3 linked regions of the Homo sapiens genome follow. The protein of the gene in region 1 purifies or fractionates together with the protein of each later gene. This does not show direct contact. Each region holds a gene or a part of one and is shown in the gene's direction. Other genes may lie near its edges.

Region 1 (4,145 bases):
TGCCTAGTTGCTGAAGGCATTCGCTTTTGTGATTCCCCTGATACTAGGAAAAATTGCATAGCATTTTATGTATACTCTGCCCTTTCAGGCATAATTCAGTTAGCTTTTTTTTTTTTTTTGAGATGGAGTCTCGCTCTGTCGCCCGCGCTAGTGCAGTGGCACGATCTTGGCTCACTGCAAGCTCCGTTTCCCGGGTTCACGCCATTCTCCTGCCTCAGCCTCCCGAGTAGCTGGGACTACAGGCGCCCACCACCACGCCTGGCTAATTCTTTGCATTTTCAGTAGAGACGGGGTTTCACCGTGTTAGCCAGGATGGTCTCGATCTCCTGACCTCGTGATTTGCCCGCCTCAGCCTCCCAAAGTGCTAGGATTACAGGCGTAAGCCACCGCGCCTGGCCTTAGGAGTTCTTAACCTAGGTCAATAGACTCCAGTTAAGACGTCTGTGAACTTGGGGGATAATTTATATTTTTAACTCCAACTGAAATTTAGCATTTCAGTCAGGGCTATGGAAAACAAACCACAGTAACATTATCAAAACCTATATGAAATCATGGTATTTTCATACCATGTTACAGTTGGTTACAAATATCTCAAAAAGCATTTATACTCATCACTAGCTTCAAAATTATGATAGTTACTACGCTTCCTCCTAGATCTTGTCATTTAATGTGTAAATAAAGGAGCACTATTACGTTACAGATTTGTTCTATTAATAGTTTAATAATTGTATTTAAACAACTGGTTTCCTTTGTAATTCTTGGTATTTTGTGCATTTGTAAACGATCTGAGAAGGGGGTCCAGAAACCTACCTAGACTGCTAAAGGGTCCATGGCACAAAAAAAGGTTGAGTTACTAGATCCAAAGGCCGTATGGACAAACAGTACAACCATTTCCTGAAATCAAATGCATTCTTTTCTGATGTTTCCCCAGTTAGACCCTATAAAAAGGTCGGCTGGATTGCAGACTTCTGGACTACGATTCCCAGAAGGTGGTGCGGCCCTGGGGCCTATCCAGAGTTAAGACAATAACTCCATCCAATAGTTGCTGTCCTCTCCTGACAGCCTACAATTCCCAACATGCATGGCGGCTGTTTATGCCTTGGGGACATTATGGACTCCGAGTTGTTGCTGGGATCTGTAGTTGCTTCGTATAACGTTGGGAGTTGGCTTCCTCTTATGATGTCTGAGGGTGGGCTCGAGGGAAAAAAAGCAAATGCAGCCATTAAATAAAAATGTCCCCTACATCCGCCCGTACCCGATCCGGATCCCGAGCGCGCGAGGGCGGAAGTGGTGGTGGCCCGCGCGGCCGGAAGTCCAGATCAGCTGATGGGGGAGGCGGCTCCGCAGCCGCCTAGAGGCCCCAGCCGCCGAGCGCTTCGTCCCGGCCCTAAGTCTCGGAGACTGGCCAAGATCACCGCTTGCACCGCGCTGTTGGGCGAGGCCCGGTCCCGTCTCTTTCCCAGGCCTGAGATTCTCGCCCGGCACGGCCGCCCTGAGCGCCCCGGCCACCCCCAGCCCCGGCTCGCCCCTCAGGCCCCGGGCCTCCCCTCAACCCCCGGCCGGCGGCCCAGGCCCCGGATCCGCGGGGGGGGACCCGGCCCCGGGGGGTGCGGGCCCCATGGAGCTGATGTTTGCAGAGTGGGAGGACGGAGAGCGCTTCTCATTCGAGGATTCGGACCGTTTTGAGGAGGATTCACTCTGTTCCTTCATCTCCGAGGCCGAGAGCCTCTGCCAGAACTGGCGGGGATGGCGCAAACAGTCAGCGGGGCCCAATTCCCCCACTGGCGGCGGTGGCGGAGGTGGCAGTGGCGGTACCAGAATGCGAGGTGAGAGTGAGCTGGGGGGAAGAGGAGCGGCAGGCCCTGCTTGGGCCTCGCTCGGGAGCTGTCCGGGACCAGGAGCTGTCCCCGACCAAGAGCTCTCTTCAACCAGGGGAAGAAAGGGGAGCTGTCCCCGGCCGGGAGCTGTCCCCGACTGGGAGCTGTCCCAAGCTTAGAACAGACTTCAGAACTCGCTTTTCCGGCCTTCCTGGGGTGGGCTGGCTTCTCCACACCTGTGTGTGTGTGGGTGTGTGTGTGTGTGTGTGCGCGCGCGCGCGTGCGCGCGCTGTGACAGGGAGATCCTGTGGACAGAAAGTAAATCTTTCGTCACTCCTTTGCCTTAGAGAGGGGATAAGGGAGAAGAATCTTGTCTTTGACTTGGGAATACTTAAGTGAGTTCAGTCTGAGGCATACCGGAAAGTAGAGGAAGAGAATGTGGGTAGGGGGCTGATTGTGAAGAAGTGACCACTTGTGGCTTGTCACCGCATTGCAAAGTGCATTGGGAGCTTCTTGCTTCGGGGTGATGATCTCTGATCCCAGAAGCACCAAGAAGGGATCCTACCCAGAGGAAAATAGAGGTGAACTGGCCTGCCAGAGAGTCCATAGTTCATAGGTTTAGATCATAGACTTTGCTTCTGGCCATGTCAAATATCTGTCAGAAGCCAAGGCTGGGACTTGCCTGCTGTGCCTTCCTCATGGCACAGTTTTTGTCCTGGTCCTCAGTGGAAGCTGGCTTTTTTCAGCAGTTGAGATGTTTAATTTGTGTGATTCTACTCAGGCCTTTCCAAGAGTCCTGTTTTCCAAACTGGCTTGTGGAGATTTCTGGTGCTCCTTTGGGACAGAGAGAAATTTACATATATCACTTTTTTTTTTTTTTTTTGAGACGGAGTTTTGCTCTTGTTGCCCAGGCTGGAGTGCAATGGCACGATCTCGGCTCACCGCAACCTCCGCCTCCCCAGTTCAAGCGATTCTCCTGCCTCAGCCTCCTGAGTAGCTGGGATTACAGGCATGTGTCACCATGCCCGGCTAATTTTTGTATTTTTAGTGGAGACCGGGTTTCTCCATGTTGGTCAGGCTGGTCTTGAACTCCCGACCTTAGGTGATCTGCGCGCCTCGGCCTCCCGAAGTGCTGGGATTACAGGCGTGAGCCACCGCTCCCGGCATATATATCACTTTTTAGGAGTGGCGGACTGGTGGCATTCAGCTTCAGTTGGAGAGAGGATATGGCCTGTGTACACACACACAAACACACACAGATCATAGGCAGTTTTACCGTGGGTCTTCTGTGGCCTTCTGGCTTCTTTCATATTTGAGTATGTGGGTGGTCTTGGGGCTTAGTGCTCCCTCACTTTGAGGGAAGTAACTGAAGTCATAGCGATGAAGATTGTTAACATATTGGTATCTTCCTGGTCAGGTTAAAATCTGGGAAAACATGCCATATTACCCCAGTCCCCCGACTTCAGTCACTGACTTGTAAAATAAAGGGGTTGGCCAGGTGCGGTGGCTCGTGCCTGTAATCCCAGTACTTTGGGAGGCCGAGTCGGGTGGATCACTTGTGGTCAGGAGTTTGAGACCAGCTTGGCCAACATGGTGAAACCCCATCTCTACTAAAAATACAAAAGATTCGCTGGGTGTGTTGGCACCCGCTTGTAATCTCAGCTACTTGGGAGGCTGAGGTGGGAGGTAAGTTTGAACCCAGGAGGGAGAGGTTGTGGTGAGCCAAGATGGCACCATTGCACTCCAGCCTGGGTGACAGAGTGAGACTTCATCTCAAAATAAATAAATAAAAATCAAAAAAATAAAATAAAGGGGTTAACTCTTCTAAAAAGGTTCTTTTTAATTCTATGATTTTCTGATCTATTAATGTGACTAGCAATTTTGTGAGATGTAGTTTGTCATGTTATCACTACTTTTTGGTTAAAACACTGTGGAAAACCTTGAGTGGTAACTTTATCTTAGTCCAGGTGATTCCAGTTGCAGCAGTAGCTAGGTGCCCTGCGATAACTCTCTCCCCTTGAGGGTTTCCAGTGTGGGAAGTTGTCATTTAGGCGCGCCAAAAGTGGTCTGGCCTCTCGTGCTTCTTGAGATCCCTTCCGGGCTCTGGTCTATCTTGTCTCCTTAGCTGGGGGCCTACAGTCATCTAGAGTAAAAGGGATGGTTAAAAAAAAAAAAAAAAGGCAATCGGAGACAAGAATGCCAGAGGAGAGACATTAACCATGTAATTTGAATTTAAAATGCTCATGGAATATGGGAAATTCAGTGCTGAGCCATGTGAGCAGGGTTACTTGCTAGGGTCCTGGAACGCACCTGTCTGGCCAGGAGTTT
Region 2 (3,500 bases), on another chromosome or scaffold:
GAAGAGAGAGTGGGTTAGGTGGTGGGAAATGTTGGGGGGCAGAGCAAATACCATGTGAGACAGCCACGGGAAAGGGGCCTTCCAGAAAAAAGAAGGAAGGGGTGGAGCTGTGTGATGGAGTGAGGGTCCAGGGGTCATGGGTTGGTAGGGAATGTCATGAGGTGAGGCTGGAGACACAGAATGAACAAAAATCGTGCAGGGCCTTATAAGCCATATTAAGCATTTTGGATGTTATCCTAAGATTCCTGTTAAGCAGGGTAGTGATGTGATCAGATTTGCATTTAAAATTTGCATTTTAAGAGGTTTTCTAGGTTACTTATGTTTTCAGGCCACTTTTAATTTCTGGAAGATCTAACTGCCACCTGCATATTTAGGGAGGGGTGTGTGTGTGTGTTTAAAAAACAGCTTTATTGGGATATAATTCACATACCATGAAATTTATCCTTTTAAAGAGTACAATTCATTGATTTTTAGTATAATCACAGAATTATGCAGCCATCACCAGTATTAATTTTGGAACATTTCATCACCCCAAAAAGAAACCTCATGTCCATTAGCAGCCACTCCACATTGTCCCAGCTCCCCAGCCCCTGGCAGCCACAATCTACTATCTACTTTCTATCTCTGGATTTGCATATTCAAGACATTTCACGTAAGTGGAATTACACAGTATGTGGTCTTTTGTGACTGACTTATTTCACTTAGCATAATGTTGTCAAGGTTCATCCATGCTGGAGCATGAAGCAGTGCTTCATTCCTTTGTATGGCAGAACATGCTATTATTTTATATGAATCTATTATCACATCTTGCTTATCCACCATTTGATGGACATTTGACTTGTTTGCAGTTTCTGACATTGCTGCTGTGAAATCGACATTTGTGTCATGCAAATGGTCAGAAAGGACATACGTTTCACCTTTCTTTTTAAAGAGAAGAGCTTTGCTCTATTTTTGTTCTGTAGCACATTCTGTTCAATAAGCAGTTTCTTTCCAGAAAGACCTGTGTGACAGTAAGGGTTCAACCACACGTGTTAATGTTGATGAATTGAGAAAAATGCTATTAAAAACTTGAGTTTTCCTCTTGGTGCTTGAAAGCACTATTTGCAGCTAATGGTGCCAGTTCCTGCTTGGTTCTAGAAGTCAGAATCTATTGTTGTTCTAGTCCATTTACAAGTGGATGCCAAGGAATTCTTAGCTCCTCTGTTTCACTTGAATGACTTCTCATCCACATTAATAAAATGTACCTGATTGCCTATTATCAAGGTGATGGCTTTCATCTTGATTAGCCATTTCAGAGAATAAAAAATAAATAAAAGTCAGAGTGGCCTCCATATTACAGAGTTCAGAACGTGCACCAGGAGGTCATGAGTATAATAAAAAACGGTTTATGACCTGCACTGGAGCATAACTTCAGGCACAATAAGTATTAAGAATTAGAAAATCATTAAGCAAGAACATTTTCAGACCAAGGGAAAAAATGTAGGCAGTGAATGTAAAAAGCTTCATAGCTTGTCATATAGAGTAGGAAAAATAAAAACAGTTTTATATATAAAGTCCAAGCAGTTTTGATAACTGTGATGAAATGGCAAATTAGCACAAATTAGTCCACAACTGGAAAGGTTTGGTTTACCCAGTTTAGGGAACAGAGTTTGTAAAATGATTAATCTCTGAAATTTAACGTGCCTGTTTGTTTGTGTTGATTTGTAACTAGTTCCTTTTAACGTTAGCATCAGGAATGTTACTTAAGATTTCACTGAACATTAGTAAGCTTAGGATGACTGTAAAGCTGGTCTACCAATTGTGCAAGCACTTATGGGACGTCTACTGCTGATAAAAGGTCGTATTTGTCAAGGGGAAGCAAATTACTCTTGGCCAATTGACTGGGAAAAATTTGTGTTTCATGGCAGATAATGGGTTAATAATAATTGATATACTTTGTAGTTTCATCACTGTACTTAAGGGGCTTATTCTTATTTCTCAGGCTATGTTAGAGGAATCTCACTGCTATTATTATTGTAGGATTCTCACTACGTGCTTTGTATTATGTTGAGGACTTGCCTGCATTATCTTGTTTAATCCTCATCGTACCCTGCCAGGATATATAGACCCCAGTGACATCTCTAGTCTACAAATGAATGGAGGCTGAGAGATTTAAGTGATTTGTCTGAGCTCACATAGGAAGGGCAGAGCCGGGACTTGATTGTGGGGCTGACGCTAAAGCTGATGTACAGTCTGCTTCCCCACCTCTCTGGTATGCTGACTCATTTATTATGAAAGATTAAATTTCATCTACAGGTGAAGCTTTTTGAATTTTGTTCTAGAATGTGGATTCTGGGTAGAGCCAATTCCTGGAAATCTGGTTCTTAGCATGTTACTATTTGGTCTTCTCGTTGATTGCAGTATGACCTTAAGTAACTTCTTAATCTTTCTTGAGCACATGTTGCCTCTGTAAGAATGTCATATGACCTATTTGTAAAGCATACCTCAAGATTTCTAAAGATCTCTTTTACATAGTCCACAAGAGGAAAGGCAACTTAATCTGGTCACTGGAGTGTTAAATTCTGTTGCTTACTTTGCTATTTGGGTTTGTTTGGTGATTTTGAGTTAAGGCATTGGATTATGTGACTGTTTTCTTGTCTAAAAACAAGGATGCTGCTAGCTGTTTGCCTTCTGATGTTGAATCTCAGTGAAAGAGAGGCCAGCAGAGCTTTCTAAATCTCGGGTACAGTGACTGAAGCACTGGGCTGGGAGTCCGAGTGCCTGAGCTGTGGTCTGGTTCTGCTGCCTACTAAGCTGAATGACCCAAAAGCCTCTCCACCCTTCCCTCACCCACTCTACCTACCTTGAGGGCTGTAAGAGAATTAAATGAGAAGTCATGTCTGAAGAAGTACTTTATATTTTATAGGTTATATGAGTATACGAAATGATTATTCTCAGAGTATCATGAGATGGTAATATTTGGAAATCTTAGATGTGATTTAGTCTTCTGGTTTTTTGTTTTTGGATTTCTTAGGTGACACTTCGGTTGTGTGTTTTAATTTTTGTTCTTTTTTTTTTTTTTTTTTTAGTGGTATGTGTGCAACAGAGAGAAATTATGCGAATCACTCCAGGCTGTCTTTGTTCAGAGTTACCTTGATCAAGGAACACAGATCTTCTTAAACAACAGCATTGAGAAATCGGGCTGGCTATTTATCCAATTATATCATTCTTTTGTGTCATCTGTTTTTAGCCTGTTTATGTCTAGAACATCTATCAATGGGTAAGTGAATCTTGGACATTTATTTTTTTCTTTATCCTTAGGTTTACAAAAGGAAAAACACAAAAAGAAAAGTTATCTTGTTCAGCATGTTGACTACCTGAGCTACAATACTTCTACTAGTCAGAACCTTGGCAGTTGGTCCAGCGTTCTATCTTTCTGTGGTTCTGCCCTTTAAATTCACCATAACGTGACAGCCTCATTAGTATGTTTATTCATAGCGGGAGTTACTTACGGTAGTGCT
Region 3 (3,500 bases), on another chromosome or scaffold:
TCACGCCATTGCACTCCAGCCTGGGCAACAAGAGCAAAACTCCATCTTAAAAAAAAAAAAAAAAGAACCATTGCTGTCCTCATTTCACAAATGAGTAAACTAAAGTTCAGAAAGGTTAAGTGACTTCCAAAAGGTCACACATCTAGGAAGTACCTGAGCTCGAATTTGAACCAGATCTGTCTGAATTCATACACCATGCTCACAGCCACCATCCTGTGCCAAGACCCATCACTGAACATTTCTGGAGGTCAGTTTCCCTATCTACCAAATGGGGAAAAATAAGCCCAGTGCATTCCTACCAGATTACTGTGAGATGAAGACAGTGACAAAATTGAAAAGCCAAAGACTGTGTGCAAAGGGGAGGTACTATTATTAATCAGAGAAGTGCTGCTTTATTGGGTACAATTTAAAGTGTCTGCATAAGGCTCTTCATTCTGGTGAATATTTCATGAGGAATGGAAAGAGCACACTACTGCATTTATTCTCTGCTCAGGCCTCCTGAATACATCCTTCCTTTGGCAGGTACACCTTGACTGTCCCTGGAGACAGCCCCTGTGCTCGAGTTGGCCACAGCTGTTCATATTTACCCCCAGTTGGTAATGCCAAGAGAGGGAAGGTCTTCATTGTTGGGGGAGCAAATCCAAACAGAAGCTTCTCAGACGTGCACACCATGGATCTGGGTAAGATCAGCAGCTGCAGAGTACATGCCCTATGGCCAGAGAACAGGGCTGTGTGCTGCTAGCCATGAGCAGGGCATTCCTAAAAACACCAGCAGGGTTTTCCTATAAGAAAACATGGCCAGGACCAGGTGTGGTGGCTCACGCCTCTAATCCCAGCACTTTGGGAGGCCAAGGCAGGTGGATCACCTGAGGTTAGAGTTCGAGACCAGCCTGACCAATATGATGAAACCCTGTCTCTACTAAAAATACAAAAAAATTAGCCGGGTGTGGTAGTGGGCACCTGTAGTCCCAGCTACTCGGGAGGCTGAGACAGGAGAATTACTTTGAACTGGGGAGATGGAAGTTAAAGTAAGCCAGGATCATGCCACTGTACTCCGGCCTGGGTGACAGAGCAAGACTCTGTCTCAAAAAAAAAGAAAAAAGAAAAAGTCAGCATCACTGACAGATCCCTCAGGTTTCTTAGTAGGCCCCTGGCACACATTCATCTGACCAGTACCTCCTTGTTTAGCGGGAGAGAACCCTTATGGAGCCCTGGTTGTCCAGCCATTTATTCATCAAATATTTCTGTAGGATACATTGATGACTACCACCACTCATTCTATTCACATATCCAATATATCACTAAGCCCTACATATCTCTTTTCTTTGTTTTTTGTTTTTGTTTTTTTGAGATGGAGTTTCGCTCTTATTGCCCAGGCTGGAGTGCAATGGCGCGATCTTCACTCATTGCAACCTCTGCCTCCCAGGTTCAAGAGATTCTCCTGCCTCAGCCTCCCCAAGTACTTGGGATTACAGGCATGTGCCACCATGCCCAGCTAATTTTTTTTTTTTTTAGACGGAGTCCCACTCTGTTGCCAAGGCTGGAGTGCAGTGGCACGACCTCAGCTGACCGCAACCTGTGCCTTCCAGGTTCAAGCGATTCTCCTGCCTCAGCCTCCTGAGAAGCTGGGATTACAGGCGCCCACCACTACACCCAGCTAATCTTTTGTATTTTTAGTAGAGACTGAGTTTCACCATGTTGGCCAGGATGGTCTCGAACTCCAGACCTCATGATTCACCCTTCTTGGCCTCCCAAAGTGCTGGGATTACAGGTATGAGCCACCACGCCCAGCCTACATATCTCTTATCTTTATCCATGTCTGTCCATTTCCACTACTACTACTGTAGTCCAAGCCACTGTTATCTCTCAACTAGACTTACAAGAGCCTCCTCACCAGCCTCCCTGCTTCCAAGTTTACCCCCTATACAGTGCATTTTCTCTACCTAGCCAGCGAATATCATCTAAAATACAAATCTAACCATGTCACTCCCTATTTCAGACTTTTCTCAACCTCCCTTTTTTTTTTTTTTTTTTGAGACCAAGTCTTGCTCTGTTGCCCAGGCTGGAGTGCAGTGGTGCTGCAAACTCGGCTTACTGCAACCTCTGCCTCCTGGGTTCAAGCAATTCTCCTGCCTCAGCCTCCTAAATAGCTGGGATTACAGGTGTGCGCCACCATGCCCTGCTAATTTTTGTATTTTTAGTAGAGATGGGGTTTCACGATGTTGATCAGGCTGGTCTTCAAATCCTGACCTGGTGATCCTCCCGCCTCATCCTCCCAAAGTGCTGGGATTATGCATGTGAGTCACCACACCAGCCTTTTTTTTTTGAGGCAGCGTGTCGCTCTGTCACCCAGGCTGGAGTGCAGTGGCACAATCTTGGCTCACTGCAACCTCTGCCTACTGGGTTCAAGCGATTCTCCTGCCTCAGCCTCCTGAATAGCTGGGATTACAGGCGCGTGCCACCAGCCTGGCTAATTTTTGTATTTTTAGTAGAGATGGGGGTTTCACCATGTTGGCCAGGCTGGTCTCAAACTTCTGACCTCAAGTGATCTGCTTGCATCAGTCTCCCAAAGTGCTGGGATTACAGGCGTGAGCCACCGAGCCCGGCCCCAACCTCATTTCTTGGCTCTCTCCAACCCACATTTGCTGCACTGGATATCCTTCAGTTCCTTGAACACAGCTTGAGCTCTCTGGCCTCCATGCCTTTGCACACACAGATCCCTCTGCTAGGAATGTTTTTCCCTTTTCTTATCATCTGGCTTCTCTATATCTTTCAGATTTCAGATTAAATGTCACTTCTACCAGGAACCTTTCCTGTTACCTCTGGACTCGTTCAGGCACTACATGACTCTGTATGTCCGTAGTCTCATGTGCTCTTCCATCCTGTCTGCCTTCACAGCCCTATCACATGTGATTGTTTCTTGTCCGTCTGCCCCACAAGAACATAAGCTCCTCAGAAACAGATAGCATATTTTCCTCATCATTGTATCCCAGACACTACCACAGGGCTTAGTACAGAGTGGGTGCTCTATAAGTATTTAAATGAATGAATGAATGAACCTGCTAATAAGAAACAATTGGATCTGGGCGCAGTGGCTCACGCCTCTAATCCCAGCACTTTGGGAGGCTGAGGCGGGCGGATCGCTAGGTCAAGAGATCGAGACCATCCTGGCTAACACGGTGAAACCCTGTCTCTACTAAAAATACAAAAAATTAGCCAGGCGTGGTGGCGGGCACCTATAGTCCCAGCTACTCGGGGAGGCTGAGGCAGGAGAATGGCGTGAATCCGGGAGGCGGAGCTTGCAGTGAGTGGAGATCGTGCCACTGCACTCCAGCCTGGGTGACAGAGCAAGTCTCCGTCTCAAAAAAAAAAAAAAAAAAAAAGGAAATGATTATTAGCTGGGCGTGGTGACTCACGCCTGTAATCCCAGCACTTTGGGAGGCCGAGGCAGGCAAATCACAAGGTCAGGAGATCGAGACCATCCTGGCCAACATGGTGAA

The links. Proteins that work in one complex are often made in the same cells at the same time.
Region 2: the proteins of ZSWIM8 (region 1) and METTL9 purify together in Homo sapiens (co-immunoprecipitation; one large-scale study listed by IntAct). This does not show direct contact.
Region 3: the proteins of ZSWIM8 (region 1) and RABEPK purify together in Homo sapiens (co-immunoprecipitation; one large-scale study listed by IntAct). This does not show direct contact.

What each region holds. Positions count from the first base shown.
Region 1 is NC_000010.11:73,784,261-73,788,405, forward strand, and holds the start of ZSWIM8 (zinc finger SWIM domain-containing protein 8), read left to right. Parts: upstream 1-1,345; 5' UTR 1,346-1,618; coding exon 1,619-1,826; intron 1,827-4,145. UniProt on the Homo sapiens protein: Substrate recognition component of a SCF-like E3 ubiquitin-protein ligase complex that promotes target-directed microRNA degradation (TDMD), a process that mediates degradation of microRNAs (miRNAs).
Region 2 is NC_000016.10:21,609,577-21,613,076, forward strand, and holds part of METTL9 (protein-L-histidine N-pros-methyltransferase isoform 1 precursor), read left to right. Parts: intron 1-3,068; coding exon 3,069-3,259; intron 3,260-3,500. UniProt on the Homo sapiens protein: Protein-histidine N-methyltransferase that specifically catalyzes 1-methylhistidine (pros-methylhistidine) methylation of target proteins.
Region 3 is NC_000009.12:125,207,042-125,210,541, forward strand, and holds part of RABEPK (rab9 effector protein with kelch motifs), read left to right. Parts: intron 1-67; exon of another isoform or gene 68-247; intron 248-522; coding exon 523-680; intron 681-3,500. UniProt on the Homo sapiens protein: Rab9 effector required for endosome to trans-Golgi network (TGN) transport.